Linked DNA regions of Homo sapiens. The protein of the gene in region 1 interacts with the protein of each later gene in a pairwise test. Each region holds a gene or a part of one and is shown on either strand. Other genes may lie near its edges.

What was found. Proteins that work in one complex are often made in the same cells at the same time.
Region 2: the proteins of MYO6 (region 1) and PRMT2 interact in a two-hybrid assay, tested with the Homo sapiens proteins (one large-scale study listed by BioGRID and IntAct).

Annotation. Positions count from the first base shown.
Region 1 is NC_000006.12:75,916,638-75,920,037, reverse strand, and holds the end of MYO6 (unconventional myosin-VI), read right to left. Parts: 3' UTR 501-3,400; downstream 1-500. UniProt on the Homo sapiens protein: Myosins are actin-based motor molecules with ATPase activity. Unconventional myosins serve in intracellular movements. Myosin 6 is a reverse-direction motor protein that moves towards the minus-end of actin filaments.
Region 2 is NC_000021.9:46,651,612-46,657,135, forward strand, and holds part of PRMT2 (protein arginine N-methyltransferase 2), read left to right. Parts: intron 1-194; coding exon of another isoform or gene 195-395; exon of another isoform or gene 396-1,233; coding exon of another isoform or gene 1,234-1,443; exon of another isoform or gene 1,444-3,486; intron 3,487-5,524. UniProt on the Homo sapiens protein: Arginine methyltransferase that methylates the guanidino nitrogens of arginyl residues in proteins such as STAT3, FBL, histone H4. Acts as a coactivator (with NCOA2) of the androgen receptor (AR)-mediated transactivation.

The DNA.
Region 1 (3,400 bases):
GGAAGAGCTGATGAGGTGAGATGGACAGAGTCTCCTTCCACTCTCAGAGGACCCAGCAGGATCATGGTAGGTTCTTGACACAGGGAATGGACCAGCTATATTCAAGGCCTTAGGGAGAAGGAGCCTTCTTTTGGTCCCCAGTTTTTACATCCTGTGTCTTCTCACAGATTAGTAACGGTCTGGAGAAAGGCAGCCAAAATTTGGTGTGTCTCTAATCTCTACAAAATGAGTAGCTGTCACTCACACAGAATCCTGCCTGTTTCCTGGATGGAGATCACATAGGAAATTTGGGGCCTATGTCCAAAGAAGTTTCAATCACCTTGAGTTCCTTGCTTCTTCCTGCAGCCACCTAACACAGTGCTTCCAGCCCTAGCGACTGGATCAAGCTTCAGGAGCCCAGAATTCGCCAACTTATTCCATCTGAAACACGGCAATAAGTGCAACATTTACAACCTGTTCATGACACCCTGTAATGGTATTAAAAGCACAAGATGCAAGTGGAAATTCTACACAGGGAGCATTTATTTATTTGTATTTCCAGTACATCAATTTTTAGAGAAAGCATTAGATATACACTTTTAATGAAATGAGGAAAAATTAATTGACAGTTTGACTAGATGAATTTTCATAAGTAAAAAGAAAACACCCAACTAATAAGCCTGTGATTTAAAGGTGAGATGCTACTTGGTACAAATTAGGATTGAATGTGTAGATATGGACATAAAGAGTGGAATAACCGACATTGGAGACTCCAGAAAGTGGGAGGCTGAGAAAAGGTTTAGGGATGAAAAATTACCTACTGGGCACAATGTATGCTTCTCTGGGTGTTAGGTACACTAAAAGCCCACATTTTACCACTATGCAATATACCCATGTAACAAAACTGCACTTGTACCCCCTAAATCTATTTTATTTTTTGAGATGGAATTTCGCTCTTGTTGCCCAGGATGGAGTGCAATGGCGCCATCTCGGCTCCCTGCAACCTCTGCCTCCCGCGTTCAAGTGATTCTCCTGCCTCAGCCTCCCAAGTAGCAGGGATTACAGGCACCCACTACCACGCCTGGCTAATGTTTTGTATTTTTAGTAGAGACAGGGTTTCACCATGTTGGCCAGGCTGGTCTCGAAGTCTTGACCTCGTGATCCACCCGCCTCGGCCTCCCAAAGTGCTGGGATTACAGGCGTGAGCCACCGCGCCCAGCCCTAAATCTATTTTTAAAAAAACAAATTTGTACTGAAGATTCTCCTTTTGAATGTGCATTAATTTTTCCTGATCATCTCTTGAAAAACTTCTGAGACAGCTAAGCTTGTTTCATATATTAGGTTAGCAATGGGGAAAGAATACAGTGATTTGAATTGAACTAAAGCGTACTCAGAGAAGTGCTCCCAGCAGAGTAGGTGCTACTTCTGCCAGTCTCTCCATCTTACCCTTCCATGAGGCTTATGTACAGAATGCCTATTTACTGCTGACCTTCTCCAGTATGGCAGTGCCATTCCTATGTGCTAAGAATGTATACACCGGGCATATCTTGATCCAAGTTTTAATAACCATACGTTCTGATCCTATAAATTACACATTATTCATTCTAAAATTTCGTAGAGATCTAGGAGTGCTCTGTGTCCTAAAATGTATCAGTGTTTCCAAACTGGGGGTGCAGAATCTTTAGGGGCACACAACCTGTCTCTTCCACTGTTGCTCTTCTCTTTCCTTATTGTTACAACTGTTTCCCCCCCTCTAACATGTCCTTATTCTCATGTTTAGATATCCTTTGCCCTCCCCTTCCATCCTTGTTAGTTTATCTTCTGGGAGAAATTTTAAAACTCTCAATACTTGTTATTATTGGTAATGATAAATAGGGAAAACCTGTCACACCTTCTGAAGTTGTGGAATGACAGAGAGGCAACCCTTTGTAAATCCACAGGTGCCACTAAAAAGTGTTTGTTTTGGTTCTTTTTGTTACATATGATTGCAGCAAAGGCTTTGATATATTTTTCAGTCTACAACTAAATTACTTGACCTCTCTGGATCTGTTACCTCTTCCATAAAAGGAGGCAGGTCTATCACTAACATCATATTAATTGGCTGACTGATTGATTCAATAAATATTTATTCTACTGATCCAAGTACTCTTAAGCTACTTCAGGTAAAAAAAAAAACCAATGATCTACATATTTGGATCGCTGAGAACCATAGTAATGACCTGTGAATGAAAATGTCTTTTAAAAAATATCCAATTAATAAAGCTCTACAAACAATACCATTATTCTTGCCTGTGGATTGCTATTCTCTAAGTGTTCACAACCACCACTGATTTTCCACTTAAGATGTTCTTTCCTTGGTTGCTTGCAAAACAAAATGGTTCACAAGAATGACCTATGAAAAGTCATTACAGAAGCAGAATGAGCATAACAATAGAATGCCTTTGTGTGGCCCTGTGCTCCTACATGCACTGTTTTGTTTCTTCCTCATATTTTCACAATCCTCTGAGAAGGTGCCATCTCCCCAACTTTACAACTAAGAAAACTCAATATTCTCTTAACATACGTGGATTAGAGTAACTTCCTTTTCTCAATTAGTTCCCATAACTCATAATACATATCTCAACTGTGTTACCACAATTAGGAATTATATTAAAATTGAATCAAATGTGAAAACATTCTGTCCTCTCATTTTAAATATTTTATGCATGCTGCCTTTGCAAAGCATATGCTATGGAAAGAACTGGTATTAAGAAAAGATTAGTTCTTTATATATAGTGGTTTAAACTTCTAATTTTAAATCTCAGTTAAAATGATTAAAATATGAGTGAATTTACTTTTGATTTCCACAGTTTTAACCTGGCATGCATGGGCTTGACTGTGAACATGGTAAAGCAGCTGCATGAACATCATTTAGGACACCACTCCTGCTGTTTCCTTTAAAAGGCTGACAGGGTCCTAAGTTTCTCCAGCAAAGGGGTGTCTGTGTGTATGTGCATCTACTGTACGTAGGTTACTGTAAATCTATCTGAATTAGGGCAGTTGCCCTGCTGGCCAAAATTAACTCAGGAAACTATTTTAAATAGATAAGTTCTAGGACAGCTGTGTGACATGATTAGAAACATTATGGCTTAAGATTAACTATAATTGTATTAACTATTAGAGTCAAAAACTAAGGACTTATAACAACCCTTTGCTGTGATACATTTCTTACAAATTTCTGAAACATTAGATTCTCTCATTTAAATATGTTTAACTCTTTAATTTTCCATCTAGTGCCTATTAATGTATCTAAAAGATACACAAAACTATTGTACTAAAGAGACATGTCATTAAAAAACAATTTGGCTACTAAATTTTGTTCAAGAACTTTACTCACTACTGGTTAGGAAAAAAGCTTATCATTCACTATCCTACACAAATA
Region 2 (5,524 bases), on another chromosome or scaffold:
TCCCCCCCAGGGAGACTGAGGGACCACCACCATCATTACTCAGGCCAAGGAGGCCCAGAACAGGGCAGACGGGGCTGCAAGAGTTCCTATGGCGATAGTTGTTGGGGCACAGGGTTGGTCGGATTTGAGGGAGGGAGGGTATGAATCTGGGAGTCGTTGGTGCGGTTGTACCCACCTTCACTTTCCGTCCCCAGGCTGCGCCTCTCCTGAGCTGCCGCATTCTCCCCTGCACCTGTGCGTCTGGCCCTCTTCACGTCCTCCTGGCCTGCTGTCTGCCTCTCCCCTGCACCTGTGCGTCTGTCCCTCTTCATGTCCTCCTTGCCTGCTGTCTGCCTGTTCTCAGAGCCCCTCAGCCCTCAGGCCTTCATCTCTCCTGGCCCATCTTCCTACTCTGACGCTGACATGTAGTAAAAGTCTGAAGACAGAGAAGAGTGCATGTGCGTTTAGCATAGGAGGGGCAGCTTTCAGTCAGTGCAGCAAGGGCATGTAGTTGTTCAGAGATGGTGCTGGAACGACTGATTTGGAGAAAAGAGGCCCTTCTTCACACCATCTGCTAAAATAAACCTCAGATGGGCTCAAGAGTTAAATATTTAAGAAAAGGAGGAAACAAAAAAATTGCTACAAGTTTATTTGTTGTTAGGATGGGAAAGGTTTTTCTAAGAACCAAGTTCATAATGAAGCTGTCAAATAAAATACTTGACAAAAAATTCCCCTTCATACATTAGCACAGCTAAAAACTATTAAATGGTAAATGCAACTAAAGAATTGCAGCTAAAGAATTGTGTGACGTAAAGAGTTGCAATAAGAAAAGCATAAGATAAAGGTAACCTCATGGAAGGTGAGCAGGGACTAGAAAGGCAGAGAAATGCCAGAGGCCAGGAGCTTGAACGTTGTTCAATGCCACCAACAATTTGAAAGTAACTGTAATAGTTTTGACCTGGGAAGTTGGCTGAGCAATCCTCTAATATCTGATGCTCCCGATGCTGAGGTTGTGGGGAAGTGTGCACCGCCATGCCCTTTTTTTGGCAGTGTAAATTGGTAAAGCCTTTTGAAGGAAAATAGGGCAGAATAAGTCAAAGAGCATTAAAATTTTTTTGTTTTTCCAGAAGCAGCAAAGTTCTGAAGGAGACGCAAGTAAAGATACCACAGGTGTCCTAGATTGTCAACAGACCATTTAATCATTTTTGTTAACAAAGCAGGTGACAATTGAGCCCTAATTTGCGTTATCATTAGTTGTTACAGGATCTTGCTTGTTCTCCTGAGGCCACGCCACGATTTCCGAGAAGCAGGTTGCACACTCAGCAGTCTCCCACTAGCCAGTGGCACTGCAGGTGCAGGGGCTGCCTCCTGGACCTTTCAGGACGCTTTGCAAGGTCACTGAGGATCTCCATTGCACATTTGGTAGAATTAAAAGACTGCCAGACTCAGTCTTACTGTTGTTAGTGTATTCGTGCTGTCAATATGTGATGAGGACATATTATATTCCGTTATTCTCTTTAGCTCAAGGAAGAATAAAGAATTTGGACCAAAATTACAACCACATTATGACGAATTTTCTAAGCAAAAGAAACAAAGTAACTGCTGAGGTTAACAAAGATGTAATAATTCTCTTCACACAGCCTTGTACTGTTTTATTGACTGTATTATCACAAATCCTGAGCTTAACGAAAGTCTTTATAAGTCAGCTCATGAAAACAGGCACGTGGCCAGTAAGAATTTAATTTCATACCAATAACACTTCAGACTTCGGATGTATTTAAGGCTGTTTGCACATATTTATAGAATGTGTGGTGTAGATGATGGGACAGCTCCCCCTCAGCAAGACTCTGGCCTAAATGTATTTGCTTTATTTACACAACAAGAGGATAAGCGTAAACACGGGCACTTTCAGTTTGTGGCACTGAAGGACGATCTACACAGGGCACCCTGCAGAGGCCACAACCAAGGCCGCCTGGCTTCCCAGTGGGACAGGCCTAAGGGAGGACTTCTGGCCCCTTTGCTTGATGTTCATGTTTTATGCCTTGATATTTCTTTTTGGTTGCATTCCCTGGAGCTCATGTAGATCATTTTACTTTTCAGAGGTGCTAGTTCTGGTGCCCACACGCACACACACAAAACCATCAACTCTTCTGGATTCCTTGGTTTTAAAGCTTGCCTCATACAAAGTACAGAGACATCTTTTTCAGGAAACATTGCCACCACATGCTTGAAGGACCGCTTATGGCTACACTTAGACATCTCCAACCAAGGTCTCTTCACCTCCTTCTACAACAATGCACTTTGTCTGCACTGGGACAAAAAATGACAGCCTTTTTTCTTTTCTTGTTTTTTTTTTTTTTTGGCGTGGAGCATTTCCGAACTTTCACGTCATAAAAAATGCAGCATAGTTAATCAGCAGCTTGCACTTCTGAGGGCACATTCACCTCGGGGGAGGAGGAAGGAGGAGGAGCTGGTGGGTGCTGAGACTGCAGTGTCCTCCTTCCCAGCAGCTGGACCCAGAGACCAGGCACCAAATTTTTTTGATGAAATTATCCTAAGGAAATAATCAAATTTGTACAGAAATTTATGTTAAAAAATGTTCATGGCAGCACCGTTTAAAATGGGGAGAAAATTGGAAACAACAGAATTGTAGCAATACATATGATCATTAAAAATTATGTTTTAGAAAGATTTTTAACAGTCTTTGGAAAAAGTTGGTGACATGTTGCTAGTTTTTAAAAAAAGTACAGAGTATGTACAGTATGATTCCAATTTTGTGTTTAAAAATTAGACATAGTGGTAACCTAGCTTCAGTTCCAGATAAGATGGAGAAGGCATACTCCTTTCATGTCTCCCACTGAATGCAGCTATAAATCCTGGAGAGTAGACAGGGAGAAACTATTTGAGGACTCTGGAACAAAGACATAGTAGCAATCGACTGGTGAAGAAGACAAGAATTTGAAGTACGGTCAAGTATCTGTGGGCTCCACATCTGTAGATACAACCTACATGTATTGAAAATATCAGAAAATAAAAATAACAATACAACAATAAACATCAATACAAATAACACACCAATACAGTATAGCAGCTACTTACATAACACTGACATTGTATTAGGTAGAAGTAATCTAGAGATGATTTAAAGTCTGTCGGAGGATGTGTGTAGCCTGTATGTAAAAACCACGTTATTTTATATGGGGGACTTTAGCATCCAAGGATTTGAATATCCACGGGGGTCCTGGAACAAGTTCCCCATAGACACCAAGAAACAACTGTATTCCTGAAACAGTCTTGAGTTATCATTTTCTTTCTTCTCCCTCTATGTATGTACATAGAGTGTACATACATAGAGTGAGAAGCAAAGAAGGTCCATGAAATGGACCAATTCTTTTGAAAACTGCAAATTACCACAGTTCATCTAACATGAAATAGATAACCTGAATGGTCCAATAACTAGTAAAGATATTGAATTAATAGTTTAAAAACCTTCTGAAAGGTAAATCTCTACCCTAAATGATTTCACTGGTGAATTCTATCAACACATTTAATGAAGAAAAAACTCCAGTTCTAAACAACTTTCAGAAAAGAAGAGGGAACACTTCCTCACTCATTATATGAGGTAAGCATTGCCCTAATACCAAAACCAATGTTAACACAAAATATGAAACCTACAGACCAATAACCCTCATGAACATAAATGTAAAAATCCTCAAGAAAACATTAGCAAATTTAAACCAGCAGGATATAAAAGGAATAATAATACACCATAACAAAAAAAGAAACTATCCTTGGAATGCAAGGCTGGTTCAATATTTGAAAATCAATCAGTGTAATCTACCATATTAACAGTCTGAAGAAGAAAAATCATGATTATATCAATACAGAAAAAAATTGACAAAATTCAACATCAGTTCATGATAAAATTCTCAGCAAACTAGAAAGGGAAGGAAATTTAACATGACATAGGACATCTACAAAAAAACCTACAGAAAATCCTAAGGAGTCTATGAGAAAATTTCCTAAAACTAGTAAGTGAGTTTAACAAGATCACAGAGTGCAAGGTCATCATACAGAAGTCATTTTTATATCTTAGCAATGTACAATTAGAAATTAAAGAATATCACAGTAGCTTCAAAAATATGAAAGGCTTAGAAATCTAACAAAATGTGATCTGGATGCTGAAAATGATGAGATGATAATGAAAGAAACCCCAGAAAACCTAAATAAATGGAGAGATAAGAAGGCTCAACCTAGTAAAGACGTATGTTCTTTTTAAATTGATCTGTAGACTTAATAAAATTCCAATTAGAATCCAAGCAGGATTTGTTCTTATAGATAAGCTCATTATGAAATGTATATGGAATGTAAAGGAACTAGTGCTATGGTTTGTCCCCACCAAATCTCATGTTGAAATTTGATCCTCAGTGTGGTGGTGTTGGGAGGTGGGGCCTAGTGGGAGGTGTTTGGGTCATGGGTGTGGATCCCTCATGAATAGATGAATGCCCTTCCTCGTGGGTAGATAAGTGAGTTCTAGCTCTTTCAGGTCCCAACAAGAGCTGGTTGTGAAAAAGAGCCTGGCACGCCCACTTGCCTCTGCTCCCACCCTGTGGTCTCTGCACGTGCCAGCTCCCCTTTGCTTTCCACCGTGAGGGGAAATAGCCTGAAGCCCTCACTGGATGCCCAATCCTGAACTTTCCCAACCAGCAGAACCATGAGCCAAATAAACCTCATTTCTTTATAAATTACCCAGCCTCAGATATTCCTTTTTGGCAACACAAAAATGGACTAAGAGAACTAGAGTAGCTGATAGAATTTTTTAAAAGAAGGGTAAAGTTGGAGGAACTATACTACTTGATTTTGAAGCTACAGTAATCAGGACAATGTGGTGAAGGGACAGACACGTAAGTCAATGGAATGGAGACGAGAGATTTCTACAAATATGGTCAATGGGTTTTTTTTAACAAAGGTACAAAAATCAATTTAATGGAGAAAAGACAGTCTTTTCAGCAAATGTTACTGGAATAGTTGTCATCCATATCTAAAAAACAACACCTCAACCTCACATCTCATACACAGCTGAACTTAAAATTGATCATAGATCTAAGTGTGTGAAATGTAAAACTATAAACCTCCTTGAAAAAATCATAGAAAATCTTCATCACCTGGACTTGGGCAAAGACTTTTTACTCTAAAAGCGTGATCCATAGCAGAAAATGTTGATAAATTGAATTTCATCAAAACTAAAAATGACTGCTCTGCAAAAGGATGATGCTAAGAGAATAAAAAAGACAAGCTAAGATTAGGAGAAAATATTGCAAAGAACATATCCAGTGTGTGTTCTGAATATACAGAGAAATCTCAAAACTCAACAGGAAGAAAACAAGCCAATTGAAAATGGGCAAAATACTTGAACAGACACTTTACCAAAGTGGATATACAGATATCAAATACACACATGAAAAGATGTTCAGCATAGCCATCAGGGAAATGCACATTAAAGCCACAGTGAGATATCACTTACACCCATTGAAAAATGACTACA